4 separate regions of the Homo sapiens genome follow, and all the other regions are linked to region 1. The links come from fine-mapping of genetic effects on gene expression. A gene starts in region 1. Each other region holds a variant in brackets. All regions are shown on one strand. Distances are from middle to middle. Region 1 holds the start of ELAC2 (elaC ribonuclease Z 2). Region 2 overlaps MYOCD (myocardin). Region 3 has its middle 110 kb from the start of ELAC2. Region 4 overlaps ARHGAP44 (Rho GTPase activating protein 44).

The links.
Region 2: its variant is fine-mapped to the expression of ELAC2 in CD4 T cells (Kasela 2017, PIP 0.95).
Region 3: its variant is fine-mapped to the expression of ELAC2 in skeletal muscle (FUSION, PIP 0.95). The same link has a PIP of 0.9 or more in subcutaneous fat.
Region 4: its variant is fine-mapped to the expression of ELAC2 in whole blood (TOPMed, PIP above 0.99). The same link has a PIP of 0.9 or more in blood mononuclear cells, cerebellum, esophagus mucosa, gastroesophageal junction, left ventricle and neural progenitor cells.

What each region holds. Positions count from the first base shown.
Region 1 is chr17:13,016,109-13,021,258 of GRCh38, forward strand. It overlaps ELAC2 (elaC ribonuclease Z 2), which reads right to left and starts at 1,919. Exons shown (of 24, transcript NM_018127.7): 1 at 1,595-1,919; 2 at 963-1,013; 3 at 754-824. The coding sequence starts at 1,839. RefSeq lists enhancers at 1,235-1,735, 1,247-1,356, 1,377-1,436 and a silencer at 1,957-2,036.
Region 2 is chr17:12,738,231-12,743,380 of GRCh38, forward strand. It overlaps MYOCD (myocardin), which reads left to right. Exons shown (of 14, transcript NM_001146312.3): 7 at 973-1,098. Among named protein-coding and RNA genes, the nearest start is that of MYOCD-AS1, 35 kb to the left of the region's middle. The variant A/G (reference allele first, on the strand shown) is at 2,883.
Region 3 is chr17:13,124,753-13,129,902 of GRCh38, forward strand. No RefSeq gene overlaps it. Among named protein-coding and RNA genes, the nearest start is that of ELAC2, 110 kb to the left of the region's middle. The variant A/T (reference allele first, on the strand shown) is at 2,010.
Region 4 is chr17:12,990,163-12,995,312 of GRCh38, forward strand. ARHGAP44 (Rho GTPase activating protein 44) reads left to right here. Exons shown (of 21, transcript NM_014859.6): 21 at 1-1,481. The coding sequence ends at 9. It overlaps ELAC2 (elaC ribonuclease Z 2), which reads right to left. Exons shown (of 24, transcript NM_018127.7): 20 at 4,801-4,900; 21 at 4,602-4,722; 22 at 4,263-4,341; 23 at 3,525-3,669; 24 at 1,450-2,883. The coding sequence ends at 2,656. Among named protein-coding and RNA genes, the nearest start is that of ELAC2, 25 kb to the right of the region's middle. The variant G/C (reference allele first, on the strand shown) is at 2,505.

The DNA of each region.
Region 1 (5,150 bases):
CTGGCACCCTAAGTGCCTCACCCTAGTCTCAGCCCTGAGAAGGGAGACTGGTCTAACACTTCACTCCTTCCGGTCCATGCCACCAAGCCCACACAATTTGGCTGCAACACAATCCTGACCTTCCGGTTGATAGACATAAATGACAGGGTAATCTGGACAGTGGGTATGTGTGTGGCTGCCAATGTGCCAATGGCGTCTGCGGTAAACATATTAACTGTAATCACCACTGCTAGACTCTCCAGTTTACTGCCACAAATCTCTGTCCCCGCAACGCAAGAAACTAAGTGGATGGTAACACTTAAGAGGTGGTATCCATATTAAAATCTGTTCTCCTGAGTCACAGCTTTTAATGCTCTGTGCTGCTGCTGACTGGGCTGGTATAAAAAGAATTCCAGGCCAGGTGCGGTGGCTCATGCCTGTAATCCCAGCACTCTGGGAGGCCGAGACAGGAGGATCGCAGAAGTTTGAGACCAGCCTGGGCAACATAGCAAAACCCCGTCGCTACAAAACATACAAAAAAAATTAGCCAGGTGTGATGGGGCACACGTGTGGTCCCAGCTATTTGGGAGGCTGAGGTGAGGGGATCACCTGAGCCCAGAAGGCAAAGGTTGCAGTGAGCCAAGATCACGCCACTGACAAAAAAAAAAAAAAAAAAAAAAGTAGCTGCCCACCCCAGACTTGGAAAAATGGTAAAGCCGGTTAAAATCCCAGAGACTTCCCACCAGCCTCTGACACTGCAAAGAATATACTCACCACTTAAGCCCCCAACATTAGACCAGTGCATTCGTGTCAGGAATATGTTGTCCAGGCGAGCAACCTTTAACCTAAGAATGAAAAAACATTTAAACAGGATAACATGAACAGAACAAGGACCACTTTTGCTATAAAAAACAACTGGCCTCTCATTTCGGCTTTCAAGCCCCGTAATCAACTCCCCCTCCGAAAGCAAGAGACTGACTCACTTGTGCTCCTGCATGAGTCTCTGAACGCCTTCTCCACAGTTGAAGAGATACCTACAAGACAAACATTACACAAGACATTCAGAAGGTTTTATTCTGTAAACTCTCTGACACCAATTAGATGTTTTATTGTAGACTCTGGAAAAAAAAAAAAGAAAAAAAAATTAAAAGTCCACGTTGGACTACCGAGCCACATTTATGCTGGTGGGTTTTGAGCCCTCCTTAGCAGAGGTGGAGAGGAGTGGGGGCCTGTGTGTGTGGGTGCTAGGACAAAATGAGTCCTTTCTCCACCACCGGCTACACACCAGATCTGTCCACCCCACACGCTAACAACGACACACTGGCCTTGGGGTGCACGGAAGAGGGTGGAGCTCCGAAAGTGCTGACAGCCAGGCCGGGGCCCAAGGGTTGGGAAAAGGACGCTCAGACCCAGGCCTGAAGTTCTTCACAGATCCGCAGAAATCACATGGATGCAAAGAATCTCGGATTTCCCACCCACCATAACTCCACGAACCCCCGCAACAGTGAACCACATGTGTGAAGCAGGGAAGCCGAAGCCCTGGGAGGTGCCCCGATGCTCAGAGGCTGCGCCGCACTGAGGGCCCAGCGGGACGGGGCGTGGCTCGTTGACTGACCGGTTGAACTCGGAGAAGACGTAGAGCGCGGCGCCCGAGTCCCGGCTACCCGCTGCCACCACCTGCAGGTACACGGTGTTTGGGCCGCCGGAGCACCCCGACGGTCCGCGCTTCTCTCGCGTGCGCAGGTGCCGCAGCGGGTCCTTGCGCGGCCGCTCGCGGCGGGCGGGTGCCTGCGATATGGTGCGTCCCTGCGACATGGTGCGTCCGGCCGCGGACCGCAGCAGCGAGCAAAGCGCCCACATGCGCCCGTCTCCACCAAAACTGAGAAAGCCGCCGGTCACCTACGCCCGCGTTTCCCGTGCACCACCTAGCCGCTCCGCATGGCGGATCCAGCCAATCAGCGCGCCGTGCACCGAGCTTCCCGCCTACGCGAGGCTGCTCATCCAATAGAAAGGAGCTTTACCGCTCGGGACTTGTCAATTGACAGTGGCCATAGAGTAGAGGAATACTAGAGCGTCTCAAGCGGCCCCGCCCCTAGTTCTGTTCCGGTTTGCCGGCCGCAATTTTTTCCGGAAGCTGTTTTTCTCCTGGGGCGGGACTTCCGGAAGCACAGTGCCAGGAAAAGCCTTCCTGGGGAAGGCGGGACCTAGGAGTTTGGAGTTTCGCTAAAACGCTCCTGTTCTCACCAGATAAGAGCTGTGTCCTCCGGGCACGTCAGTCCCTCAGAGCTTGAGTTAGAGGTGGTTGTAGTGGTTGTGAGGATTAAATGTGAGGAAATCAATTGTATTGAGCATTAGCATAAGCGCTTTGCTAATTTTATTTCCATTGTAATTCGTATGCATACATGTTAGAACTTGATCATTTTTACGTGGTGTCCCGAGCTTGTAGTCCCAGCTACTTGGGAGGCTGAGGCAGGAGAATCGCTTAAGCGCGGAGGCGGAGGTTGCGGTGAGTCGAAATCGCGCCACTGCACTCCAGCCTGGGTGACACCTCGAGACCCTGTCTCAAAACAAAACAAAACAAAACAAAAATTGTAGTGTTTTTTGGAAAGAAAAGCAAGAATAGAGGACAAGCTCTAAAGCAAGAGTCTTGGCTCATTTGTTAGCTGCGTGATCTTGACCTCTCAGAGCCTCAGCTTTCTTATGTGTAAAATGTAATAACAGCAATAACAGTATCTCCTACTTCAGAATATAGAATTCAGTCACCTGATAATATATCAATAGACCTTTGAGTGGCACTGTCACAGAAGAGGCACCCAGTAAATGATAGAAAATTAATACAAAATGTTTCAACTCCTAGACAATATAGCTGACCAGGGACATCACAGAGGTAGATGTCCCAATACCAGCTTTTTGAAAAAAACACCCAGTCCCCTCTTATGTAGCTAATGAGGATTTCTCACTGAAAGGGATATCAGTTAAAGCCGCTAGAAATACAGGGAGCTCCCTTAAAAGAGGAAGATAATTTACCTGGAAGCTCCACTCAAATATGATTTTTTAAAGATAATTTACCTGGAAGCTCCACTGACATATGATTTTTTTAAATAAATACTGAAAGATGTCACTTTTATTCAGGAAGTAAGGGAGATTCAAGTCATGTAGATTCCTACTCGAAAATCTTGACACCTGACTTTCCAGGATCACATTTTCATATGGAGACCAGTTTCCTCTTGGTTTCTTCAGTTAAGTCAAAACTACACGTTCCTCTTTCCCCATATATTTTTGCTCATTAGTGTATTTCTTGAGCTGTTTTCATTCAAATATGAAATTTTTTATGGAAGATTATCACCCACGGTGTGAAAACGTTTTGTACTTGAAATAACCATCCCAGTGAGGGTCAGGAAAACACTTCAGATCTACTTTACACAGTTAGAGGGCGTTACAAACTGAAAAGATTATCATACCACCATCTCCATAAGTATTTGAAATAAAAATGATAGTTTTTAAAAGTTGCTTAAAGCCTGGGCACCGTGGCACATATCTGTAATCCCAGCACTTTGGGAGGCCAAGGCGGGAGAATAGCTTCAGGCTAGTAGTTCAAAACCTGCTCTGTGGCCAGGCATGGTGGCTTATGCCTGTAATCCCAGCACTTTGGGAGGCCGAGGCAGGTGGATCACCTGAGGTCAGGAGTTCGAGACCAGCCTGGCCAACATGATGAAACCCCGTCTCTACTAAAAACACAAAAATTAGCCGGGAGTGGTTGCATGGGCCTGTAATCCCAGCTACTGGGGAGGTTGAGGCAGGAGAATCACTTGAACCCCAGAGACAGAGGTTGCAGTGAGCCAAGATCACACCATTGCACTCCAGCCTGGGTGACAGAGGGAGATTCCATCTCAAAAACAAACAAACAAACCAGCTCTGGCAACAAAGCGAGACCTCATCTCTACCAAAAAATACTAAAAAATTTAAAAATAAGTAAAAATTAGCTGGACATGGTGGCACACACCTGTTGTCCCAGCTACTCTGAAGGCTGAGACAGGAGGATCACATGAACCCAGGGGTTTGAGGCTGCAGTGAGCTATGATCATACCACTTTACTCCAGCCTGGCTGACAGAGTGAGACACTCTCTACAAAAAAAAAAAAAAAAAAAAAAGAAAAAGAAAATTAATTCATTAAAACTACTTTTAAAAAGTGTAGTGCAATAAATAAAATACTGATTTTTTTCCTGTGATGACTGCTTTGATCCTTTTAAAAAATATATCAAATTTCACAAACAAAAATACATTGGTTCCTCTATTTTATTGGTGCCCTATGTGCATATCTATCTGTTGGGTAATCTCAAACTACTTATCTCAAAATTATAGGAGGAATCACTTTTGGTCATCGACTTATATAAAATTCTGAGGGCTGGATGCTATTTAGGTTGTTTCTAGGGCCCAGTGTACTTTCTGCACTTATGCTTTGGGTCATATTTTTATTCCTGGTATATGAAGACAATAGCTAGTACTTCTTCAATCTGAGGTTATACTGGAATGTAAATTTCATGAGCCTGGGATTTGTCTATCTGGTCCTCTGCTGTATCATTAGCTCCTAGGACAGAGTCTGGCTTGTGGCAGACAATAAATACTAGGAAATTAGAAGCAAGCCAGTAGCTTAAATGAGGTTTTCAGTTTACAACTAAGCAGGGCCTAAAATTGAATCAAGACAACAATGTATGTGTTTTCTGAAGGGGATTGGTGTGACTGGTACCTCCAAAAGGATAGTTCAGAGAGTCTGAAACAGAAAAGTGTCTCTGGACTTGCTGGAGTAGAGGCAGCCTGACCATCGGGACAGCAGAGAAAGTGGAAATCGAGGCGACAGACTTTCAGAAGTCAGTGATATTAACAATTAATATAATACAGCCACTTCCTCTTGCTTTGAGTCTCTTTTTGTTATCCATTTTGTATATGGGCAGCTTGTGGCTTGAAATCACTTTCAGTCCTTTTGTTGGTCACGGTTGTGTTTAGTAAGAATAGCCTGTCTCTGCTCCTTGCAGTGGCTGCTGGGTGGCTCAATGGGAGTGGAACCTCACACTCACAGGTGTGGGTCCTGGGTACTGGCCCTGCTGGGGGTGCTTTGGTTCATTTCCCATTGCCTCTCCATCCATGTAGACTGTCCACATTCAGTAGTTAGG
Region 2 (5,150 bases), 280 kb before region 1:
AAAAGAATCCTTTGGGCCTTTGACAGGTGCCAGGCAGGGCTCAGGGAAGAACTGCAAAGCTCATTCCTCACCCCCCATGGAGAGATCATGGGCAGCCCTGGCTCCTTTTTGTCAGAGTTGAAACAGAGGAATATAGGAGAGAAAGAGAAAATAATTTTTCCCTTTACAGACTCTACCTCTGGTAAAGGTTTCTTATGACTTTATACACATGCATGCGCACGCACACACAAACACACACACAGACTCACATATGTATACACACAAAACCACATATACATATACATGCCTGTGTGCACACATGTGCACACACACACACGTATACACCTAACATGCACACACACATATATACACACATGCTCATAAGCACGCATGCACGTACACACATACATGCACATATAAACACTCAGACACACACTTGGAGATACACACACACACTTCCAAACACACACTTTCCCTTTTTCTGCTAACATCCTTTTTATCTACCTTGTTCATTGTCCTACTTTCCCCCCAAATTCCTACACTCACTCTTCCCTGCTGCTCTTTTTCAATTGCATTATCAAGACAGGTGGACCTTGTCACACACAGGTGGAACGCCCACACACCGAGACCAGATGTCCCAGTTTGCCTAGAACAGACCAGTTTTATACCTGTCTTTTGGAATCATTACTTAGAATGATTCCCTTTCTCTCTCAAAAGTGTTCTCAGCTGGATGATAAGTTTATATATATATATGTATATATGTATATACACATAAACATATTTATATGTGTATACACATGTACATATATATACACACACACATATATACACACATATACGTATGTGACTCCTCCCACTGAGGGAGTAGGCTGATATTTACTTGGGTGAGAAGCTAGGATGAAAGCAGCAGAGGTATATATACGGACTCTAACATTTCTGTGTCACACAACTTATTCCTGTATCTTCCTAATATCGGTAACATTTGGATTTCAGGATCTTGCTTCTGGCTCAGAAAATGACAGAAATGACTCAGCCTCACAGCCCAGCCACCAGTCAGATGCGGGGAAGCAGGGGCTTGGCCCCCCCAGCACCCCCATAGCCGTGCATGCTGCTGTAAAGGTACGGACACATCAGCCTCCAAGCCCTGCCTGAGCGCTCGGCTCACAGAGCCGACTTGGAGCAGAACTTTCTGAGTTAGGTCTGACAACACGAGGAGAGTTACACGGAGGACCCAGGCAGAGGTTCAGCTCACTAGGAGGGTCACAAAACAGGAGATGAGAAATGGGTCACCATCCTTGCAGCACAGCAGAAGTCACCTCTGCCACGGAGAAGGCTGTGGGTTTGCATTTCTTTGGAATCACAGTCCAGCCAGCACGTTCCCCACTTAAAAGATTTCATAAGCTCACCTTTGAGGTAGACACAGCTGATTGTAAGGCAGGATTTGCAAGTTTCATAAAATAGGTATGCAGCAGTTGGATTTTATGCAAGGGAAGTAGCCCTGAAAAGCTTGCATAACGTAAAACTTACATCATTCAAGCCAGTCTTCCTATGGAAATAACCACGGGGTTTCATTCATAGTAGGCAGGTAGCTAGAATCATTATAGCAAATGTTTAGTTTTCTCAGCATTATATCTTTTTGTTAATTTTTATTTTTATTTCAATAGTTTTGGGGGTGCAGGTGGTTTTTGGTTACACAGAGAAGTTCTTTAGTGGTGATTTTTTTTCTTTTTCTTTTTTCTTTTTTGAGACAGAGTCTCTCTCTGTTGCCCAGGTTGGAATACAGTGGCGCGATCTCAGCTCACTGCAACCTCCGCCTCCCAGGTTCAAGTGATTCTCCTGCCTCAGCCTCCCGAGTATCTGGGACTACAGGCTCCCGCCACCATGCCCGGCTAATTTTTTGTGTTTTTCATAGAGATGGGGTTTCACTGTGTTAGCCAGGATGGTCTTCATCTCCTGACCTCATGATCCACCTGCCTTGGCCTTCCAAAGTGCTGGGATTACAGGCGTGAGCCACTGCGCCCGGCCCTTTAGTGGCGATTTCGGAGATTGTAGTGCACCCGTCACCTGAGCAGTGTACACTGTACACAATACGGAATCTTTTATCCCTCACCCCACTCCCAATCTTCCCCCAATCCCCAAATTCCATTACATAATTCTTACGCCTCTGCATCCTCATAGCTTAGTTCCCACTTATAAGTGAGAACACATGATACTTGGTTTTCCATTCCTGAGTTACTTCACTTAGAATAATGGCCTGCAGCTCCATCCAAGTGGCTGCAAAAGACATTATTTCATTCCTTTTTATGGCTGAGTAGCATTCCATGTTGTATATGTACCACATTTTCTTTATCCACTTGTTGGTTGATGGGCACTTCGGTTGGGTCCATATCTTTGCACTTGCGACTCGTGCTTCTATAAACACCAGCATCGCATCTCACAGTACACAGGCTGCTCTCTCTTCAGTTAATTGCCTGGTAATCATGTGGCCTTCTTTATAATGTTTTATCCCAAATAACTTCCCTTTGTGTTCCTTTTTTTTTTCTTTTGAGATGGAGTTTCACTCTTGTTGCCCAGGCTGGAGTGCAGTGGCGTGATCTCAGCTCGTCGCAACCTCCGCCTCCCAGGTTCAAGTGATTCTCCTGCCTCAGCCTCCCCAGTAGCTGGGAGTATAGGTGCACACCACCATGCCTGGCAAATTTTGTATTTTTAGTAAAGACGGGGTTTCTCCATGTTGGTCAGGCTGATCTTGAACTCCTGACCTCAGGTAATCCACCTGCCTCAGCCTCCCAGAGTGCTGGGATTACAGGCGTAAGCCACCGTGCCTGGCCTATACCCAAATAACTTCCAACTGATTTGGGAACACGTTTTCTCAGCTCGAGTGCCACCACTTAATGAATGTTAAA[A/G]TGACTCTTACGGGACTTAAAAAAGATTGTAAATTGAAGTAAAAATCAATGATATAGTAACAGTTTTATGGTCTAATGGATGATAGACACTTCAGTTTGCCAATAAGGCTCCCCCACCAAACCACAAGAGCTTAAACCCAGCTGACAATTCACTCAGCTCAACAGGTCGGAAATTATGTGACTATCAATGCATTTTGTTCATTGCAGGGGAAGGAGGAGGAGATGAGTCCCGTTATTTCTAAAGCTGAGTATAAAAAGAAATGTTATTCATATTTCTATCACAGTATTTAAATTTTGCATAATTTAAGTTAGCAGTGGAGCATGGTGGCTCACGCCTGTAATCCCAGCACTTTGGGAGGCCGAGGCGGGCAGATCACCTGAGGTCAGGAGTTCGAGACCAGCCTGGCCAATATGGTGAAACCCCGTCTCTACCAAAAAATACAAAAATTAGCCGGACGTGGTGGCGTGTGCCTGTAATCCCAGCTACTCAGGAGGCTGAGGCAGGATAATCGCTTGAACCCAGGAGGGGGTGGTGGCAGTGAGCCGAGATCGCAGTCACTGCACTCTAGCCTGGTCGACAGAGCGAGACTCTGTATATATATATAAAAAAAAAAAAAATTAGCAAAGCCTTCAACCTCACTGTAGTAGAAAGTATGATAGAAGCCCAGGAGATGAACAGATCGCTTTCTGTGAAAAAGGCGATTCTTACAGACACCCAGCTGGTCCCGGCAGGCTGGTTGTTTGTAGAAGAGCCATCATTTCTTCTGCTTGGTCAACAAACACAAAAACCTTAGTGTCCCCTGGGCTCAAAAAGAGAATAGTAATAGTAGCCTTTACCCCAGACTATCCAGAGTAAATGGTCCGATTTCAGTATCTTCTGGAATGTGCTAAGGCAACATAGAGAAAAAAAGCTCCTGGACCTCCGACTTAGCTGCGGGACCCTGCCAGGGCTGCAGCTCCCATCCTCCCCAGACAAGGCAAGCCTCAGAATGAGGCGACAACAGCAGCTGGTCTGGAGCAGGCCAGGGCAGAGCTGGTTTCGGGAGCCCTGCAGAAACTCTCCAAGGACAGAAGACTGATTAACTAACTAGAATGCTAATCGATTAGTAAGCAGAGAGAAACGGAGCCACCAAACACACCCAACTACTTGTGTTCATTATTCATTAGTCGCCAGGAAGAAGTCTCTTTGGAAAACAAAAGAGCCTTTGGGGGTGCATTGCGCTGAGTCCAAGTGAGTTGTAAGCTCCTTTGGATAAGGTCACATTCAGATGTGTAGTTTGTGGTTGAAGTGGGGAACCTGCCAAGTCAGAATATGCTTGCCAGCTGTTCAGGAGCCCCCTCTTCTGGACACCGGTGGAAACACACTTTCCTTCCAATGTTCCCCCAAATCCTAGCTCACTCGTGGTCATGACATCCGTGTTCTTCATTTCAACCTTCTGTAATAAAGTCAGGGTTTGAAAATTATTTTTTTTTTTTGAGGCGGAGTCTCGCTCTATCACCCAGGCTGGAGTGTAGTGGCGCAATCTCGGCTTACTGCAACCTCCACCTCCTGGGTTCAAGCTATTCTACTGCCTCACCCTCCCGAGAAGCTGAGACTACAGGCATCTACCACCAAGCCCAGCTAATTTTTTGTATTTTTACCAGAGACAGGGTTTCACCATGTTGGCCAGGCTGGTCTCGAACTCCTGACCTCAAGTGATGCGCCCACCTCCGCCTCCCAAAGTGCTGGGATTACAGGCATGAGCCACCGCGCCCGGCCTGAAAATTACTTTTTTTTAACCTGATAACAGGATGGACCCATTCCTTCCTAATATACAAAGGTCTTTTATTTCAGGAGCAGGTTATAGACATAATTACCTGTTCATTGACTACCTGTTATTATTTCAATATTATCTTTTATAGTCTTTATATTGATTAGTGAGAGAAAAAGTAAAGAATATTTTCTCCAACTTGCAGGTGAGGAAACTGAGATGTATTAAAGTTAAGTAATTGTACCACTTTCAAAAATTTGTCTTATCTTCCAAGACTATACCCTTAACTTCCTGATTCAGTGTGTCCAAATCATGCAATACATGCTTTGGGTTCCAACTCTGGGAAGTGTTCCAGTTAGGTGGATAACCCTTCCCATAATAAGTAAAGTGTCCTTATTTCAAAAGGTGTTACTTCCTGATCTTTCATCGGTATTTGGCAGGCAGGCGAGAGGGTGTTCAGCAGGCAGATAGGCAAGGTTTATCTTACTTTCAGCTCAAAGCAACAAATAACCACATT
Region 3 (5,150 bases), 110 kb after region 1:
AGGGTTTTAAAAATTGTCTCTATCCATGGTTATAAATGGCTATAATATTCCTGTTTTCAGACTCTGACTTGTGTACTTCTGTTTTTCTCTTTTTGATTCATTCAACATTACTTCTGTTTTTCTTCAGTTTATTGACACTTGCCTTTATCCTTATTCATTTCTCTTTTTACTGGATATATGTATACATGTGTATATTTTTAGGCCTCTCACATGAAAAGATTTTAGTACTTGTATTTCCATTTTTCCTTTTGATAATGAAAGGCATTTAAGAATAATTTCTCTAACCTTAAACGCTATTGTTATTTCCTAAAGAGTATGTAATTATACGTTTAAAATTTTTTAATTTCAAAATATTTTTGAATTTATAGAAAATTGCAGGCCGGGCATAGTGGCTCACGCCTGTAATCCCAGCACTTTGGGAGGCCGAGTCTGGCGGCTCACCTGTGGTTGGGAGTTCGAGACCAGCCTGACCAACATGGAGAAACCCCGTCTCTACTAAAAATACAAAATTAGCCAGGCATGGTGGTGCATGCCTGTAATTCCAGCTACTCGGGAGGCTGAGGTAGGAGAATTGCTTGAACCCGGGAGACGGAGGTTGCGGTGAGCCAAGATTGTGCCATTGCACTCCAGCCTGGGCAACAAGAGCGAAATTGTGTCTCAAAAAAAAAAAAAAAAAATACACAAAGTAGATGTTTAAAAAAAAAAAAAAAAAGAAAGAAAGAAAATTGCAAAAATAGAGAATCCCCCAACTTTTTTTTTTTTTAGGCAGAGTCTTGCAGTGTTGCCCAAGCTGGAGTGCAGTGGTGTGATCTCTGCTCACTGCAACCTCTGACTTGTGGGTTCAAGCGATTCTTCTGCCTCAGCCTCCCGAGTAGCTGGGGTTACAGGCACCTGCCACCACCGGCTAATTTTTGTATTTTTAATAGAGACAGGGTTTCACCATTTTGGCCAGGTTGGTCTGCAACTCCTGACCTCAAGTGATCCACCCACCTCAGCTTCCAAAAATGCTGGGATTACAGGTGTGAGCCACCACGACTGGCCAGTACCCCAACTTTTTAAATGTAATAGTTTGAGATGTGTTGGAGATATGTGAAACAGGCCTGATTTATACATTGAAAATATGAAACGTGAATCTTTTCAGAAAAATTTCTATAATCATGATACAGTTATTAAAGCTAGGAAATTAACATTGGTACACTAACACTAAGTAAACTACAAACTTTAATCAATTTTTTTCAGTCATGTTTTCCAATCCAGGGCACCATATTGCATTTAGGTGTCAAGACTCCTTGACCAAACTATATTGTTCCTCATTCTTTTTTTTTTTTAATTTTGAGACTTTGATGCGTTTGAAAACTACCCATCAGTTAGTTTGTAAAGTGTTGTTCCATTTGGATTTGTCTGATGTTTTCTCATGATTAGATTGAGGTAATGAATTTTTGGCAGGAATGCTGCAGAGGTGATGCGCATTTTCAGAGTACATTACATCAGAAGGCACATGATATTAATGTGTCTTATTACTGGTGATGTTTATTTTCACCACTTGGTTGAGGTCTACTTGAGTTTCTTCAAAATAAACTTACCATCTTCCCTTTTGTCATATATATCATGGGATATAACTGTAGAGTATTCAAATATCCTATTTCCCCTCAAACTTTTACCAATTCATTTTATTATGCATTAATGGATTTTGTCTATAATTACTATTGGTTACTTTCCATCTTCAAACATCCTATCTCCCCCCAAACTTTTGCCAATTAATTTTATGATGCATTAGTGGATTTCATCTCTAATTATTACTGTTGGTTATTTTCCATCTTCCTCGTTTCTTTTGCATTTATTAATTGGAATTCTCCTGTAAAAGAATAGCCGTCCCTTCTCTGCCATTGACTTATTTATTCAATTATTTACTTATACCTGTATGGTCTCATGGATATTGATTTTAATAGATTGATTACAATCTAATACTATTGTTGTTTTCTTTGTTGTTCAATTGGTTCCAGTTTGGG[A/T]TACTAGGTGCTTTCTCAGATTGGCTCCTATGTCCTTTTGACAAGCCCCCATCCTTGCTTCAGCACTTTCTTACTTTCTAGCCTCACAAGATGTCACAGGTTCATCATGTATTTTTCTTGTCTCAACCCAGGAATTAGCTACTTCTCCAAGAAGCCCTGTCACCTTTTATTAAAGAATGGTATTTAGAAACTAAGGTCTAGGCACAGGATGTGCTCATTGTTACTGAGATTTCATTGCTTCTAGGCTCGCTCCATGGAAAGAGCTTGAGAATACTACATGAATATGTATTAACCCATGTAGACACAGAAACCTGTACCTATCAATCTACTTACATAGCTATTAAAAAACACCCTATGAGTTCATTTTGATACCTTTAATTCAAATGCCACACCACAGGACTGGGCACAGTGGCTCACCCCTGTAATCCCTTTGGGAGGCCAAGGTGGGCAGATCACCTCAGGTCAGTAGTTCAAGACCAGCCTGGCCAACATGGTGAAGCCCTGTCTCTACAAAAAAAAAAACACAAAAATTAGCCAGGCGTGGTGGAGTGTGCCTGTAGTCCCAGCTACTCAGGAGCCTGAGGCAGGAGAATTGTTTGAACCTGGGAGGCAGAGGTTACAGTGAACTGAGATTGTGCCTAATTATTCTCATATATTTCTTTTTTCTTCACCCCTGAAGAGTTAGTGATGGTGACAACTGCAGCTGTGGGTTTGACGGCTATAGCAATGGTAGTGCAGGCAGTCATTGTTTGTTTGTTTTTTTTTGTTTATGAAATGATTGAAGGAACTTACAATATTGTTCCTGAAGGGGTGAGAACTTGGGGTAGTGACAGTTGCCTTCGACTCTATGATGTGCTTTATATGTAGAGAAACTGCTGGACTTTTCTGTTTTGCTCTAAACTTTTGAATAATAGGCAGTGGGCATTGAAAGGCAGGTTGATGTAGGGTGTGGTGGTTCACACCTATAATCCCAGCACTTTGGGAGGCTGAGGCGGGCGGATCACAAGGTCAGGAGTTCGAGACCAGCCTGGCCAATATGGTCAAACCCCGTCTCTACTAAAATTACAAGTAATTAGCCAGGCGTGGTGTTGGGTGCCTGTGATCCCAGCTACCGAGGAGGCTGAAGCAGGAGAATCACTTGAACCTGGGAGACGGAGATTACAGTGAGCTGAGATCTCGCCACTGCACTCCAGCCTGGGCTACAGGGCGAGAGGCAGTCTCAAAAAAAAAAAAAAAAAAAAAAAGGCAGGTTGATAACAGCTTAATATGTGGAAGAATTTCTAACAAGTGTAAGTGGCCAGCGGTGGAATGAGCTTTCAGTGAGGAAATGGGTTCAGTGTTAGATGTAGGTAGATAAAGAGAGTCACTTGCCAATGGTGACATAGAAAGTAACCTATATGGGGCAGGAAACTGGGAGTGAGAGTGATCTCTGTGATCCTGTTGGACACAAAGATTCTCATAGTCTTATATATAGTCCTACATAAATTGTTACAAAGTGAAAAACATTATTGGGAGTTCAGTCTTCTGAGCCACAGGCCACCTCTTACCTCTTTTAGAGTGACGTCATGCTTAAGAGCAGGGGCTACATAATCAGCTTGCCATGGGCTACATCCTGGCTCTGCCTCCCGCTAGCTCTGTTGAACACGAACAGATCACTTACCGCTTTGTTGTGTGAGTTAAAGGAGATAATGCATGTAGGGTGGAGTGTCTGCCTGGTGCATAGTGAGGGCACTATTCATCGCAGCAATTGTTATAACAAGTTCCCTCCCTCAACTGCCTTAATCTCTTTGCCTTCATTTTAGCATGTTCTATTGTTTTCATTTTGTATTGCCTGACAGTCCTCGCTACATTGGGGAGGACGTGATATCTTGGTTCTTTTGTCCAGAGACTTGCTGCGTATCTTGGAGCTCCTTTTGGGGAGACCCATCCCTTAGGCACATTCTGACTTACTGTAGTCTTACTTTTTCAGCTCTGCTACATGCAATATTATGTTCTCCAAAATTGTGCAGGTAGGAAATCCTTCATTCTTTCCTTCACCTTTGTAGGTAATGAAGGAGCCAAAATTCTCTCACCATCGTGAATATCTACCAAGAGTTTTCACAATGCTGCTTGACATTGTTGTCTGCTCTGGGAACCAGATAAACAAGTTTATTGCACTTCAGCCTAAATAACCTAAGTCATGTGTTCATGATCTTGTCTTGGGCCTAGCTTTGGTATTAGTGTTGGCTTAATAACTGAAGAAGACATTTTGTTTAAATTCTCACTTTGATAAAATTTTGGAACCAAGGGGATTTTTTTTTTTCAAAGCAAAATTTTACAGGCTCTCGTGCCTTGCTCCTTAGAGCTCCATCCGGTCTGCAGCCGCGCCTCTTCATTTACCACCAGTAAAAGCCTGGTCTCGGGGTGGGCCACACAGTCTGTTTCCACTTTCTGCACTTTGGCTGACACCTAAAGGGGAAAGTTTCCTAAAACCATGACTTGGTGAGATATCCTAGCTGCCACTTCCAAGGGAGTGTTTCATAATATTGTCCAATCACCTGGTGTCTGGTATAAGAGGGCCAACACAAGTGTCTTCAGGCTTTGTCTTTCAGAACCAATAATTCCATGAAATGCGAAAGGAAAGGTTGATTTCTGCAAGTCCCTGCTTTCAAGTTTCACTGCAAACCATTTGCACAGGAAGTCAAAAACATCTGTATTGGAAGGGTTTGGTCATTTTCTGAAAAATTCTATCTTTTCTTTAATCAAACATACCACATTTTCTTCCGCTTGGCAGGACTAAAGCAATCTGGAAAACTGGAATTGTAGGATCTTAGAGCTGGACAGAACCTTATGAATCATCCAGTCTCATCTTTCCTCAGTGCAGGAATTTCCTTAGAAACATTACAAATGGCTCTAAATTCTTTCCTGGGTTGAGGTCTCAGTGCTTCCTAAGACAGACCATCTAATTGTAGGCTGATTTTTATTGTTAGATACCTCTTTCTTTTTGGCTGTGGCAAAATGTCACTAATAACTTTCTAGTCATTCATAAGGACGGGCAAAGATTTCATGACAAAGAGACCAAAAGCAATCACAACAAAGGCAAAAATTGACAAATGAGATCTAATTAAACTTAAGAGCTTCTGCATAGCAAAGAAAACTACC
Region 4 (5,150 bases), 26 kb before region 1:
GCCCTCTGACATGACACCGCCCATCCTGCCTCGCGTGTACATACATCACGGGCCCTAGGAACGCCGCCAGGAGCAGCGTCCATGAGCTTGCCAAGTGTTCTCTGCTGGCTCTTTCCTGCCACTGCCAACACGAGGTTGGAATTTGGCAGAAAATTGTGATCTCCAGTCCGTGTGGTGATGCTGGTGGTGCAGGTTTTGTTTGTTCCTTTCGGGTGGTGACTTCGGCCTTTTGTTTGACCTTTGCCTTTTGACTTTGTGCCTCTTTTGATCCACTTTCAGCCTCCATGCCAGAAAACACCCACCTCTCCATCCAAGGCTGGTCAGGAACGTCCTTTGCAGGGTCGGGGTGGTGCGGGAGAGGCTCACTTTGCCTGGTTAGACCCAAGGGCTGCTACCTTTTCCTTGGACGGCTCATGTCAGGTCTTGCAGGATCAGTTTAATGGCCACAGAAAGGAAGCAGGACAGCAGGGCCCCTCTCACCCACAACTGGACCAGGTCCAGGATTCTAGCAGTCCTGGGGCACTGACCTTTGCCAGCTACCTGGGGGAGGGCTTGCCACTGGAAAACCTTTCAGGCCGCCCCCATCAGTGGGCTCCAAAGTAAATGGCTGAAAACAAAAATGTTTCACTTCCTAACAGTTTTCCTTTTTCCACTGTGTGACTGAAAGCTCCTATATCATTTTATATTTCTGAATCTATAAAACAAAACAAACAAGCCTGACAGTGTCTGGAGGAGCCAAAGGTGGCCTCCCTGTCCCCAAATATATTGGCTATATGAGAGTAATTTTACCCCTCTACGTACCTAAAGGCACCCAGTTCACTAGTCTGTGGGGTCCTGGAGCCTGTCTCTTCTTTCTGGAGGTTCAAACTGAATAGCAATAATTACGTTACCCAAAGCATGTGGAGGAAAAGTGAAACCAGCCACGGAGACGCTGGCCCACGGGCTCGGCCTGCGGTGTGGCCTGCTTTGCTCACCAGCGTCAGCCGCTCATTTCCTTCTCATGAAGTCCCATCTGGTCATGGGGACGAGGGCCGGGAGGGCACCGGGTAGCCTTTTCACACTTGGGGATTAGGGGAGTGAGAAAAGATTTGGGCCATGCATGCAAAGTCAAAGTTTAAAATTTTATCCTTTTCAAATAGATGATATAATATACCTATACATGATATAATATTTGTATATATGAAATCTCTCTATATTTGTTTAATTTGAGCCATTCAATCTAAACCAATGTACAGGTGTACAATGAAAAATTTAAATGCTTAGTTATTTTTCCCAACACAGTGTAAAGTCACCCTCCTCTGAGAGTGGGATGTGCAGAGTTTTGATGTTGCAGCTTTGCTCACTTCCTGGCAAGGGCAGGTCATGCCTCAATTTGTAATGGGAGTCTGGGGTAAGGGTGGGGGTTGAAAGTTGTTATCTTTAAATACATGTACAAATCGTTGTCAAAAGTAACGTTATTAAAATAGATTTATTATCCCTGAGCTTGGCATCTGTTCTTGCTTTAATAAACCTGCGGGGACATGGCCGTCAATCTCAAATGCACACCGGGATGGAGCCTGAAGGTCACCACCTGTGTAAAGCCAGGTCCCTGGCTGATCTCTCGCTTGCTTGTCTTTTGAGTTTTTAAAGCTCTTCTTTTTACATTCTCCTGGGTAGGGAATATACACAATAAATACTAGATTCAACTTACTTACTTACTTACTTACTTTACTTACTTACTTCCTTGGAAAATGCTCTCCATTTGTCGAGCACTAATCCACGTCTGTAAATCCCGCAAGGAGGACAATGGAAACCAGCCCCGTGTGCCATTTCTCAAAACCTTCGAGGGCAAAGTGATCCTCACTCCTCTCAGTATGGAAGCAACAACACAGCAAATCTATTGTCTCCACTTTTACCCAGAACCACCAGAAGACTTGCATTTCCCTGACCAATGACACCAGCCCAGCCAGGCTCTCACTGATTGATTTGATTGATTGATTGATTGATTGATAGAGAAAGCACGCCCTGCTGTGAGCTGGCACAGCTCGAGTTGTCAAAAAGACTTGGCGAATAAGGGTGGCTCTCTGAGGACAGGTTCCAGAGGTGCTCACTACGACGGGAGCTGACTTCTTCCAAGCCACCCGGGTACCAGGCAGCTGCCACACTACAGCACAGAGAGCCTTCTCCAAGGTGGTGCACAGCAGACCCTGCTCTGTAGCAGCAGCAGGAGGAAGCAAAAGAACTCACAATTGCAAACTCAATCTTTATTGCAGCTGAAATACTATTTTCGTTAAGTCTCGGACACTTAGACCCACTGATCCTGTTACTCTGCTTGTCTCTGGTGTGCAGGGAATCACTTTGCTGGATTAGAGGAAAGGTGCCGCCGTCTGTTTCCAAGACTTCTTTAAAAACTGCCTTGAAATGAAATTAGTTCATCTGCTTGCTTCCGTGTGGCAGCCTCCTGGCCCGCGGCTGTGCCAGGCACCAGTCCTAAGAGGCATCTATAGACTAGTGCTTATGTGGGA[G/C]CCCAAGCCTCGGCACAGCTCCATACCACCTATCCTGAGCTGCCTCCTGGGGGACCGTGCTCTTCAGCTTCTACCAGCAAGGAGGGCAGATACGGGTGCGTGCGTGGGGCAGAAGACACACAGCCTTCTGAGTTCAGGGTCTCCCAGATCTTCACTGGGCTCTGACCTTCTTGGCCTGTGGCTCCTCTGTGTGGGCCCGCTTCTGCTGAGGCTCCCCATCCTCCAGGCCGCCTGCCAGCTCCCTGGACAGGAGGGCCGCCCGCACCTGCCGCAGCTCCCGCTTCTCCCTGCGCTCCTCCATCTCCTCGATGTCGCCAGCAAACAGGGCTTTCAGTGGGGGAATCAGCTTGGGCATTGTTGGAAAGTCTCCAAAGCAGACCTAGAAGACACAATAGAAGACAAGGACATGTCTCAGAGGGGCAGGGGTGGGGGACAGGAGCTGGAAGGGATGCAGTCATGTGCTCACACAGCAGCGCCAACGCCCCTTCCTTGGCACAAGCCAACAGGCCACAGCTGAAATGGAAAAAAGAATGGCATGGAGGGAACCCTCTAAAGGGGCAGAGGCTCCCCAGGCCTGGCTAAGGGCCTCCGGAGAGGGAAGGGAGAGCAGTCCAGATGCTCTCAAAATCAAGCTCCTGAAAAACGAGGCCTGGCTCCGGCTCTGCCCCTTCATTCCGGAAGGCCAAGGGTCAGGCCTGGCTTTCCCACTCACAAGAGGCAACCACCTGTCTCACAGGTCTGTGCTGAGGCTCAAATGCCATGACTGTGTGAGCAGTCCAGGCCTAAAAGGATTCTCAGAAATTTCCAGTGAACTGAGACTGAAGACTAGTTGGCCCCTGCAGGAGGTGGGTCTCACCAGCAAACCCAGGGTGGTTCGACCTGGTTAGTGATGGGTAGATAACCTTTTCCCACGGTGGCCCCAAATAAGAAAGCAAACTCCAGCTGACCGTCCTACTCAGTGTGTAGAGTCCTGTCTCCCTGCCCCGTCCCCGCCCTGTGCTGTCCGTGTGACATACAGACCTTCATGTGGTCAAAGGCAACTCCCACTTTCTCGCTGAAGTTGGGGCTGAAGAGGGGGACCTTGGCATAGCGCTGGCTGAAGTGGTTCAGCATAATGAACTCCGCGTTCATCCGCATCCCCACGCTGATGGCTTGGGACGTTGTGCTGCAGGTGAAGGACAGAGCAGACTGAAGCTGAACTCAACTGCAAGACTGCAAAGCAGACAGTGGCACAGACCCTGGCCATCAACTGCCAGGGCACCCGGGGAAGCTGGTGGGTTTTCTTAACGGGCACCTCCGTAGCCAGCACAATCTCCCCTGAGGGCCAGAGCCTTCGCACACACCCCTGGATGAAGCCCACCCTCTGTGCTGGCTGCCAAATCTGTCCATGAGGGCACCCAAGAGAAACCACAGGGCCCACCTGGGGTAATGCACTCTTTCGTTGAAATTAGCAGCCAAAAATTCAGTCCCCCAGCCCCCGCCTTCCCCTGGCAATTCCCTGACATGGCTTATAGTTTATTCAGCCGATTTCTAGATGCTTTCAAAAAACTGTGCCTCACTCTAGAATCTTGCTTAGAAAATTCTGCAAAAATAAAGGCCAAGAGCCTGTGAGCACTGCCACAGGTCAAGGAAGCCCCCATAGCCCTTGATAGGAAGCAGGGCAGCCCCACATCAGTGGAGACAAACGACGGCTGCTCAGTGTCACGTAGTGGGGGAGGGAGAGGATGTGGGCGACAAGGACTGACCGGCCTTTGCTACCTGTGTGTCTTTTCCACTGCTTCCTCTTCCAAACCATCTTCCAGGGTGGCTTCATGTATCAGGAGGGTGGCATCTTTCCCTGGAGAAGCAGCACAAGGATCAGGGCAGAGTTCTCTGCGAGAGCGGCACACAGGCCTCAGTCACGTGCTGTTTCCTGGTCTCAACACTCAGCTCCCCTGGCCCTGGGTCTGCCTACTAGGATGACAACCAGAGACTCTGAGGGTGGGGACCTGAGTCTCCTGCCTCTGCTGACGTTTCCCTGCAAGCCCACCTGCATTCACCTCCAGCTACACAAACCCCAGAGCAACCTCAGGGTGGCTTGCTTCTTCCTCTACTCACCCATCCGGACCAGAGCCTCGCAGGGCATGGTGTCCCCGGAATAGACCACTTTCCAGCCAGAGGTGTGCACCAGCGCACAGCCAAACGCATGCTTGCAGTGCCGCACCAGACAGGTCTGAAACTGAAAGGGTGGGGCTGGAGGGCTCTGCAGCTCTGCTCCCCACCTCGCCCCCATGATGCCTGCGGCTGTGCCCCTTACCTCTTCCAAATCACATGTTCGCAACAGCGAACTGATCAATCTTTCCACTGCAGGACTGGAGATCTCAGCCCCTTCCTGAAGGCATTTGGCAGGAATCATACTGTAAAAAGACAAAACATTTAAAATGATAATAAACGTTTCTTGGACATCTGGAACCAAAGTTTAAGTCTTTGGCTGGAGAACCCCAAAATCATTCTTAGGAGAAAACATGAGTTAAATCATAGTCACTATGATGAGGAAACAGCAGTCAAATATAAAGAGCCAAACCAAAGCCTCTAGGCCACTGGGAGAAACCCAGCAGGTGAATGCTGCCTCCGGCTCAGGCAGCACGGGCCACGGATGGCTCCAGC